2 separate regions of the Homo sapiens genome follow, and region 1 is linked to region 2. The links come from fine-mapping of genetic effects on gene expression. A gene starts in region 2. The other region holds a variant in brackets. All regions are shown on one strand. Distances are from middle to middle. Region 1 has its middle 3.8 kb from the start of TRR-CCG2-1. Region 2 holds the start of AMZ2 (archaelysin family metallopeptidase 2).

Region 1 (5,378 bases), 220 kb before region 2:
CAAAAAAATTAGCCAGGCGTTTGGTGGCGTGCGCCTGTAATTCCAGCTACCAGGGAAACTGAGGCAGGAGAATCGCTTGAACCTGGGAGGCGGAGGTTGCTGTAAACCGAGATTGTGCCACTGCACTCCAGCCTGGGCGACAGAGCAAGACGGTCTCAAAAAAAAAAAAAAAAAAAAAGATAAGCCAGGTAAAGAAAATCGAAATTGGGCCGGGCTCGGTGGCTCACGCCTGTAATCCCAGCATTTTGAGATGCCCAAACGGGCGGTTCCCTTTAGGTCAGAAGTTCGAGACCAGCCTGGCCAAAAAGGTGAACCCTAATCTCTACTAAAAATGCAAAAATTACCGGGGCGTGGTGGCGAGCGCCTGTAGTCCCAGCTGCTTCGGAGGGTGAGGCAGGAGAATCGCTTGAACCGGGGAGGCGGAGGCTGCAGTGAGCCGAGATCTCGCCATTGCACTGCAGCCTGGGTGATAGAGCAAGACTCTTTCAAAAAAAAAAAAAAAAAAAAAAGGGACCGTGCGCGGTGACTCACGCCTGTAATCCCAGCACTTTGGGAAGCCGAGGCGGGCGGATTATGAGGTCAAGAGTTCGAGACCAGCCCGGCCAACATGGTGAAACCCCGTCTCTACCAAGAATACAAAAATTAGTGGGCCGTGGTGGCGCGTGCCTGTAATCCCAGGTACTGGGGAGGCTGAGGCAGGAGAATCGCTTGAACCTGGGAGGCAGAGGTTGCAGCGAAGCGGGATTGCACTACTGCACTCCACTCTGGGCGATAGAGCAAGACTCTGTCTAGGGGGAAAAAAAAAGAAAATCGAAATTCTGTAAGTCGGAGTTAACCACTCCTACAAAATGTATTAACATTTTGGTGCATATCTTTCTAATTTAGTCTGCGTGTGATGTGTTATCCTTGTTATCCTTGGCCTGTGAACTCTGAGGCATTCAGGAAATGCTTTTCATGAAAACAGGTTATTTATTGCGTTGACATTTGCACCGATGGTGCAGAAGCAATAGCGGGTGAAATAGCAAATTTAAGGCATTTGAACTAAACTAATAAGAGTCATATTCTTTACCTTCGTGCACTGGCAGAGGGAAAAAGCCAGGTTTACTGAAGCATATCCTTGGTGACGCTGTAAGAATAATTAAGTGTATTAAGTTTCAACGCTTGAGTGCACAGCTTTTTAATATTTTCTTTGACAATGGGAAGTATGAATAAATCACCTCTACGCATACCAAAATACAATGGTTTTTGCTTGAGTAAAGCACTTGTGGGATGTTGGAGTTGCACTCCGAACTAGCTGCTTTTCAGTCGTACCGAATTTTCATTGAAGGAACAACTGACCGACAAACTAGATTATTCAGAGTTGGGCATTTTGCAGATATTTTTTAGAAAATGAACAAAGTGAGCATGTCGCTTCAAGGAAAACAATATGCACTGTTTGTGGCTAATGAAATAACCTACATTTTCAAGGGAAGGCCGGGTGCGGTGGCTCAGGCCTGTAATCCCAGCACTTTGGGAGGCCGAGGAGGGCAGATCACGAAGTCAAGAGATCAAGACCATCCTGGCCAACATGTTGAAACCCCATCTCTACTAAAAACACGAAAATTAGCTGGGCGTGGTGGCACGCGCCTGTAGTCTCAGCTATTCGGGAGGCTGAGGCAGGAGAACCGCTTGAACCTGGGAGGCGGGGGTTGTAATGAGCCTAGATGGCGCCAGTGCACTCCAGCCTGGCGACAGAGCGAGACTCCGTCTCAAAAAAACAAAAAACAAAAAAACAAAAAAACCGTCAAGGGAACATTTAAAAGCTTGAAACTTTGTATCCACCACTGTAAGCTTGATAGCTTTCAAATATTTAAAGACATTTCTGTTTAATGAGTGCAATGTTTTGATGTTGTACAATTCAATGTGTCAACACTTGGAAGATCTGCATACCTCTTAGTGTAACGTGTTTCAAATGACCAGTGCATAATGTTCGATATTCCTGCATGGGTAAAGGTAAAATATGCATCCAAGTGGAGTACAGACTAATGAGCCACCACCGCACGGCCAGACTAATGGATTTTAATGTAACAGAATGCAGAAAGTTTGGTGATATGCTCTAGTTTTCACATTGCAGCATATTTTCTTAATTAATTGACTTTATTATTTTTTATCAGTTTTAGGTTTGCAGAAATATTGAGTGGAAAGTACAGAGGGTACCTGTATATTCCTTCACTTTCCCTCACCAATTTCCCGTTATTAACAGCTTGCATTAGTATGGTATATTCATTACAATTGATAAACTAATACTGATACATTATAATTAACTTCATTAACAATATAATAATTAATATTAATAATAATATTTAATATACATTATTAGTAAAGTCCATAGTTGATACTTGCAGGGTTCACTCTTTGTATTGTGCATTCTATGGTTTTTGACAAAGGTATAATGTCATATATCCACAATTACAGTATCACACAGAATAGTTTCACTGCCTTTAAAATGCCTTATTCCACCTATTCATTCTCCCCTTCCTCCCCTGAAACCCTTTCCAACCACTAATCTTTTTTTTTGAAATGGAGTCTCGCTCTGTCACCCTTGCTAGAGTGCAGTGGCACAATCTCGGCTCACTGCAACCTCCGCCTTCCGGGTTCAAGCGATTCTCCTGCCTCAGCCTCCCAAGTAGCTGGGACTACAGGCACAAGCCACCATGGCCGGCTAATTTTTGTATTTTTTAGTAGAGACGGGGTTTTACCATATTGGCCAGGCTGGTCTCGAACTCCTGACCTCGTGATC[C/T]GCCCGCCTCAGTCTCCCAAAGCACTAGTATTACAGGTGTGAGCCACTGCACGTGGCCCCAACCACTAATCTTTTTTGTCTCCATAGTTTTATCTTTTCTAGAATGTCATTTACTGTAGTTGGAATCATACAATGTGTAGCCTTTTCAGACTGGCTTCCTTCATTTGGCAATATGCATTTAAGGTTTCTGCATGTTTTTCTCATGGATTGATAGCTCAATTTTTGCTTGCTTGTTTGTTTCTTTGTAAGTTTGTTTTTGAGATGGAGTCTTGCTGTGTTGTCCAGACTGGAGTTAAGTGGCACGATCTCAGCTCACTGCAACCTCCACCTTCTGGGTTCAAGCAATTCTGTCTCCTGCCTCAGACTCCCAAGTAGCAGGGACTATAGGTGTGTGCCACCATGCCTGGCTGAATTTTTTTTTTTTTTTTTTTGAGATGGAGTCTCACTCTGTCACCCAAGCTGGAGTGCAGTGGCTATGAGCTCGGCTCACTGCAACCTCCACTCCTGGGTTCAAGCAATTCTCCTGCCTCAACCTCTGGAGTAGCTGGGATTACAGGCACATGCCACCACACCTGGCTAATTTTTGTATTTTTAGTAGAGATGGGGTTTCTCCACGTTGGCCAGGCTGGTCTCAAACTCCTGACCTCAGGTGATCCACCCACCTCGGCCTCCCAAAGTGCTGGGATTACAGGTGTGAGCCACCGCACCCGGCCTATATTTTGTATTTTCAGTAGAGACGGGGTTTCACTGTTTTGGCCAGGCTGGTCTCAAACTCAAACTCCTGACCTCAAGTGATCTATCTGCCTCGGCCTCCCAAAGTGCTGGGATTACAGGTGTGAGCCACCATGCCCGATCTGCTTGTTTTTTTGAGACTGGTTCTCACTCTGTTGCCCAGGCTGGAGTGCAGTGATGCAATCACGTCTTACTGCAGCTTCCAACTCCCAGGCTCAAATGATCCTTCCGCCTCAGCCTCCCAAGTAGCTGGGATGACAGGCGTGCACCACCATGCCTGGCTAATTTTTATATTTTTTGTAGAGACCAGGTTTCACCATGTTGCCCAGGCTGGTCTCAAACTCCTGGACTCAAGCAATCTGCCCACCTCAGCCTCCCAGACTGCTGGGATTCTAGGCATGAGCCACCATGCCCAGCCTTCTTTTCTTTTCTTTCTTTCTTTTTTTTTTTTTTGAGACAGTCTTGCTCTATTACCCAGGCAGGAGTGCAGTGGCTCAATCTCAGCTCACTGCAACTTCTGCTTCCCAAGTTCAAGTGATTCTCCTGAATCACATCATGGCTAGCTAATTTTTGTATTTTTAGTAGAGACAGAGTTTTGCCATCTCTACTGGAGTTGGCCAGGCTGGTCTCGAACTCCTGACCTCAGGTGATCCACCGGCTTTGGCCTCCCAAAGCGCTGGGATGACAGGCACGACCCCCACGCCCGGTCTGGACTTTTGTTATTATTATTATTTTTTTTAGAGACAGGGTCTTGCTCAGTCACCCAGGCTGGAGTGCAGTGGCTCAATCATAGCTCACTGCAGCCCCAAACTCCTGGGTTCAAGCAATTGTCCTGCCACAGCATCCCAAGTACCTGATACTACAGGTGCACACCACCACACCTGGATAATTTTTTTTTTTTTTTGTAGAAAAAGGGGGTCTCCCTCTGTTGGTTACACAAACCCCTGGCTTCAAGTGATCCTCCTACCTCAACCTACCAAAGTGCAGGGATTACATGCATGAGCCACGGCACCCAGCCTTCTTATTTGAGGTGGCAAATTCCTTTACTCATAAGCCAACTTAGGATTGGGTCTTCTGCCTCTTGCAACCAAAAGAGTCATAAACAATACACTCAGGAATTTGTGAGAGGAAGATAGGATTGACAACAAAGGTGGTTTGGAGAAGGGGTAGATGTATGGATCTTTTGGAATGAACTTAGAAGGTGTGGATTTGAGTTATATGGATGTTCACCCAAAGGCCTCCACTGTGGAATAGGCTATTAATATTCAGGTGGCCATGATGGCCTGCTCTGTAGATGTCCATCATCCTCCTTCCCCTGCCAGGCTAGTGCTTGCTTAATGGGATCATGAACCACATGGCCAAGGCAGCAGAGACAGAGGCTATGCATACGCTCAGTATCATTCACTTCCTACTACTGAGTCTGGTCTGGCTACTATTTCTGCCGGGGGCCCAACCAGCCCTGATGTTGGCTTCACACCCTGAAGGGACCATTCAATTACCTGGTGATCATGACAATAACATTGGACCCTTTCCATAATAGATCAGGAGGAAGAGACATTTTATCTGGATTGGGCCATATTTACTTTCCAATGTGTCACTCTGCTGCCAGCACCACCATCCATTCACTTTCTTTTTTTTTTGAGACGGAGTCTTGCCCTGTCGCCCAGGCTGGCGTACAGTGGCATGATCTCGGCTCAGTGCAACCTGCGCCTTCCAGGTTCAAGCGATTCTCCTCCCCCAGCCTCCCGAGTAGCTGGGATTACAGTCGCGTGCCACTACGCCCAGCTAAATTTTTGTATCTTTAGTAGAAATGGGGCCACCATGTTGACCAGCCTGGTCTCAAACTCCTGATCTCATGATCCGCCCA
Region 2 (5,378 bases):
TATGGTTCATATTTTTTGCTCATTTTTATGTCATGGTGTTTATCTTTTCTGTGCTGATTTGTAAAAGCTATTTTAAAACCCTTCATCTGCCATATATGTTACATTTCTTTCCTGCTTTCTGCCACCTTCCAATTTGTTACCAACTTTCTTCTCCAACCTTGGGCCACTGGCATATACACTCATTTTAAATATCAGAACTTGTAGTGCTCTTTGAAATGCAGACAGACTATGGTTCATTCTGCAACTGCATATTAGTTAACAGGCAAAAATACCTTAGTAAGAGAAAGTGTCTTTTCCTTCTAATGTAAAAAAAAAAAAAAACCTAACCCCCCCGAAGCACTAAGGTGTTTATTTGTTTATTTTTTTGAACAGGGTCTCACTCTGTTGCCCAGGCTGAAGTGCTGTGAATCACAGCTGACTGCAGCCTCGATCTCCTAGGCTCAACCCATCCTCCCACCTCTGCCTCCCAAGTAGCTGAGACTACAGGCATGTGTCACTACACCTGGCTTTTTTTTTTTCTTTTTTCTTTTTTTTTAGAGATGGGGTCTCCCTATGTTGACCAGGCTGGTCTGGAAGTCCTAGGCTCAAGTGATTCTCCTTTCTCCTGTCTCAGCCTCCCAAAGTGCTGGGATCATAGGCATGAGACACCATGCCTGGTCAGTTATTTAAGAAAATAAATATTAGACCATGCAGAAATAATGCTATCCTAAAATTTGTGAGCAAGTACAAAGTTCATGATTTAGAAATTTAAACAGTTTAAACGCAAAATGAAGTTCTTTTTAATGAATACCAAAAAACTGACTGAAAATCTAGTGAATACCTTTTATGCTTCAGACACCTCGTATAGAGAGTCTTTACCCTCAAGCATCTCGCAGTTGAGTAAGGGTGACATGTAAGAAATAGGTTACAATCATTGTGACAAGGACAACTGCAGTATTATTATGTACACACAAGGCAATGAACAGGCAGAAGTAAAGTTTTGTCATGAGGCAGGATGAGGCTATAGAAGAGGTGACAACTAAGCTAAAGAAGCCACTCAGGATGTCAGAAGACAGCTGTTCAGTCAAAAACAGGCACAGTATCCAAAGGAACTCATTTGATCCCTAAAATTCTGTTAAGATGTGCTGTAGGTGGGGCGCGGTGGCTCACGCCTGTAATCCCTGCACTTTGGGAGGCCGAAGTAGGTGGATCACCTGAGGTCAGGAGTTCAAGACCAGCCTGGCCAACATGGTGAAACCCCGTCTCTACTAAAAATACAAAAATTGGCTAACATGACGAAACCCTGTCTCTACTAAAAATACAAAAAAAAAAAAAAAAAAAAAAATTAGCCGGGCGTGGTGGTGTGTGCCTGTAGTCCCAGCTACTCTGTAGACTGAGGCACGAGAATCGCTTGAACCCAGGAAGCATAAGTTGCAGTGAGCCGAGATCGCACCACTGCACTCCAGTCTGGATGACAGAGCGAGACTTCGTGTCAAGTAATAATAATAAAAAAAGATGTGCTGTAATTGTCTCCGTTTTACAAAAGAGGTCAAGTAGTTGACACAGGTCCCACGCTAGTGAGGGTTTTGGGATTCAAGCACAGACCACCTTCGCCCCTATGCTACACCACCTCAGGCTGTCGGGAGATAGGCGCCCAGTCAAAAGGCACATGGAAGAAAGCCCACGACTTCTCAAGCATTGAAGCAGGAGTGGCGCATCGGTATTCTCAACTTCAAACTTTGAGAACAGTCATGGTAGGAATGCATTTTATTCAAGAATGGGTTCAGGTGAGGGTGGATATGGGCACTGGGTTCAAAGGACAAATTTGGAGAATTCATGATCCAGGAGAGTGAACAAATAAGGAAGGGCTAAAGAGATCCTCGAAGTTGAAAGGTTCAGAGTTAATGTCCTCTAAGGAGAGCCAACAAGGGGTTACAAATGCTGAAGTCATCAAGAAAATGTGCCTGTCTTTCCTTGAGACTGGGAAGGAGAATTAGGATGACGAAAATCCAGAGGATGGTAAAATAGCTTGACTTCAAAATAACAGGCCGGGCGCCGTGGCTCACGCCTGTAATTCCAGCACTGTGGGAGACCGGGGTGCGGGGGGGTGGATCACCTGAGCGCAGGAGTTCGAGACCAGCCTGGGTAACAGGGTGAAAACCCGTATTAAAAAAAAAAAAGCCGGGCGCGGTGGCCCACGCCTGTAATCCCAGCACTTTGGGAGGCCAAGGCGGGCGGATCACTTGAGGTCAGGAGTTCGAGACCAGCCTGGCCAACATGGTGAAACCCCATCTCTACTAAAAATAACAAAAATTAGCCGGACGTGATAGCGGGCACCTGTAGTTCCAGCTACTGGGGAGGCTGAGGCGGGAAAATCGCTTGAACCCAGGAGGCAAAGGTTGCACTGAGCCCAGACTGTCCCACTGCACTCCAGCCTGGGCAACAGAGCAAGACTCCGTCTCCAAAAAAAAAAAAAAAAAAAAAAAAGCAAGAAAAAGAAAGAGAATGGCGAGGCCCAGAGAGACCGAAAGTCCCACCAGAGGGTACAGAGCTAGCTCAGCCCTAATGCCGGCCCCGCGGTGCCTTTCCGAGCTCACGGCCTCCCCTCAGCATCCGGGTTTCGGCCTCGGAGCGCCAGGGACGCCACGAGGACGCGCCCCACACTTGCGCTTCTGGGTTCCAGCCCCCGCGGCCCCCAACAAATAAAGAAGGGAAAGTGCTGAGGGTGACGGCCCCGGGGAGCGCTGCGGCTCTACGTCAACCTGCGGCGGCCGCCGACTCATTTGGGGCCACGCTGGTTGCATTCGTCACGCCGGCGATGCCTCTCAAACCCGCGGCCTGCCGAGGACGTTCCCACACGGGAGACCCCAGCGACGCGGGCGCATCTGTGGCTCTCGAGAACCGGGCCGCGGAGCCGCCGCGAGCGCAAGCGAGGAATCGGCGACTGCGGGGGTGGACAGCTGGGGCTTGTAGTCCCCTCGCTACCCTCTATTCTGGAAGAGGCGGGTCGCGGCCGCTGAACTCCAGCTCTGCGCCTGCCCAGGCGGCCGCACGCTCAGGGGCGTGGCATGGGTGGGTCGTGAGTTGGGCGGGGCCCACAGGGCGTGCGCGACGCAGCGGCGCGGCGCGTGGCGTAAGGGGCGTGGCGCCAGTGGGCGTGGCGTGGCGCAGTGCGAAGGGACGCGGTGCGCATGCGCGTGAGGGCTGCCGCGGGTGGGTGGTATCGAGGCCTGTCGGGTCAGGGCGGTTCGCGGGTGCTGTCAGAGCTGGGCCGGGGCCCCTAGGCAGGGTAGCCGGGTCGTAGAGGCGGGGGCCGGTCGCGGTCGGTGGAGCGGGATGAGGATGTAGGAGGGGCGGACGTGGCGGAAGCCGCGGGGTCCGCGGGGTCGGTGCCTCTAGGGAGCCAGGGAGGCCTTTCCCGAGGCTCCTGGGGAAGAAGAGGCGAAGCGAGAGTCCCTGGGGAACCCCCACTCCACTCCCAGCTGGAGACTGGGTTGTGTCTGCATGGACCAGAGCCCACAGTGCGAGTTGCTATAGGCAACCAGCCAGGGTGGCCAGCTCCTTCCCGTTTGCCCGTGATGTTCTGGTTTTGGGACCAAAGCATCCTAGGCCTCCAGCCCACTGCAGTGACCGAATTCTGCGCCCCCTGCCCATCTTCTCCCGCAGCTTCCCTAGATTAGGCTTGGGAGGCAAGAGGAGGCCTCCTGACCTTTCACACTGCCTTTTTAATATTAAGATGAAGTCACACTCCACAACTTTCTTCCAGCCAGGCCCAGACATGTCCGTCCTTGTAAGTTAAAAGCTTCCATGGGAGCCTTCCTTCCTAATCAAGGTAGGTAGACTACAGGAAGGTACATCTTGTTTTATATTTTGTCCTGTAGAAGTCAGATTTCAGCCCAGTTGTGTAGGAGTGAGGATGAGCCTATGCTTATATCAGAGCTTTGAGTACAGAGACATTTGGTCTGGAATTTTAGTCAGCCTCTTCAACCCCAGAATTTATAGGTTCAATCAGAACAGACATTAGCTTAAGTTTTCCCATCAATCGTCTATCATTAAACTGGCAAAATCTAAATAATTAGAAAATATGACAAAGATGATCCAGACAGAGATGTTCAACTTTTTCCTTAATTCAAAAAGCCTCGTGGTGGAACATCGGACCCATTCAAGAGGAAGGATGAAAGCTCTATATAGGAACACGATGTGAATGGAAGAAACCTGTCATTGTGAGGCTGGCTTTTGATTAGTCATCTGATGTCTTCCCTAATGTGACATGACTTTGAGGCCATAAACTTCAGTGGCTAAGCTGTAGTTTCTCAGCCTGCAGTTAAATTGCAGAAATGATAGGGCTTACATTAGTTTTGTTTTTATTTGATGTTGAAGATCTTTGAGTCACATTAGAAACGATGAGTATTTTTCATGTGGCACTGATGAGTTAATTCATATTATTATTTTTTGAGACAGAGTCTCTATTGCCCAGGCTGGACTGCAGTGGCACGATCACGGCCCACTGCAGCCTCGACCTCCTGGGCTCAGATGATCCTCCCATCTTAGCCTGCCAAGTAGCTGGGACTACAAGTGCACATCACCACATCCGGCTAATTTTTTTGTAGATATGGGGTTTTGCCATGATGTCGAAGCTGATTTCAGACTCCTAGGCTCAAGTAATCCTTCTGCCTTGGCCTCCCAAAGTGCTGGGATTATAAGCGTGAGCCACTGTGCCAGGCCAATATTATTCCCCAAAAGAAGGAAGTTGGGTGTGAGGTCCTGCTCCTGTGGTCACCGTGAGGTTTTTTTTTTTTGTTTTGGACTCTTGCCCAGGCTGGAGTGCAGTGGCACAGTCATGGCTCACTGCAGCCTCAAGCTCCTGGGCTCAAGTGATTCTCCTGTCTCAGCCTCCCTGGTAGCTAGGACCACAGATGTGCACAACTATGCCCAGGGAATTTTTAAATTTTTTGTAGAGACAGGGTCTCACCATGTTGCCTGAGCTGTTCTCAAACTCCTGGCCTCAAGCAATCCTCCTATCCCAAAGTGCTGAAATTACAGGCATGAGCCACCACACCTGGCCACCACTAGTTTTTGTAATGGGAGCAGGTTCCATATGAGATGGAGGAATGGATTTCATGATTGTCTTTTTAATTTCTTAGATCTCCAAGAAATTGGACATGAGGAAACCACTCTAAGTGTGACCACTCTAAAGCATTAGCAATCAGTCATTTCACTCTAGGGAGAAATCAGAGCTGAAATATAGAGGATAGGTAAAGTCCCCAATGTAGATATGTATTTTTATATTTGATTACTTGCTTTTTTTTGTTAGATGCAAATAATACGGCACTCCGAACAGACACTAAAAACAGCTCTCATCTCAAAGAACCCAGTGCTTGTATCACAGTATGAGAAAT

What was found. PIP is the estimated chance that this variant, and not a neighbour inherited with it, causes the effect.
Region 1: its variant is fine-mapped to the expression of AMZ2 in lung (GTEx, PIP 0.93).

Annotation. Positions count from the first base shown.
Region 1 is chr17:68,021,068-68,026,445 of GRCh38, forward strand. No RefSeq gene overlaps it. Among named protein-coding and RNA genes, the nearest start is that of TRR-CCG2-1, 3.8 kb to the left of the region's middle. The variant C/T (reference allele first, on the strand shown) is at 2,780.
Region 2 is chr17:68,244,895-68,250,272 of GRCh38, forward strand. AMZ2 (archaelysin family metallopeptidase 2) reads left to right here and starts at 3,149. Exons shown (of 7, transcript NM_016627.5): 1 at 3,149-3,811; 2 at 5,294-5,378. The coding sequence starts at 5,294. RefSeq lists enhancers at 1,669-2,215, 2,216-2,761 and silencers at 2,976-3,275, 4,585-4,634.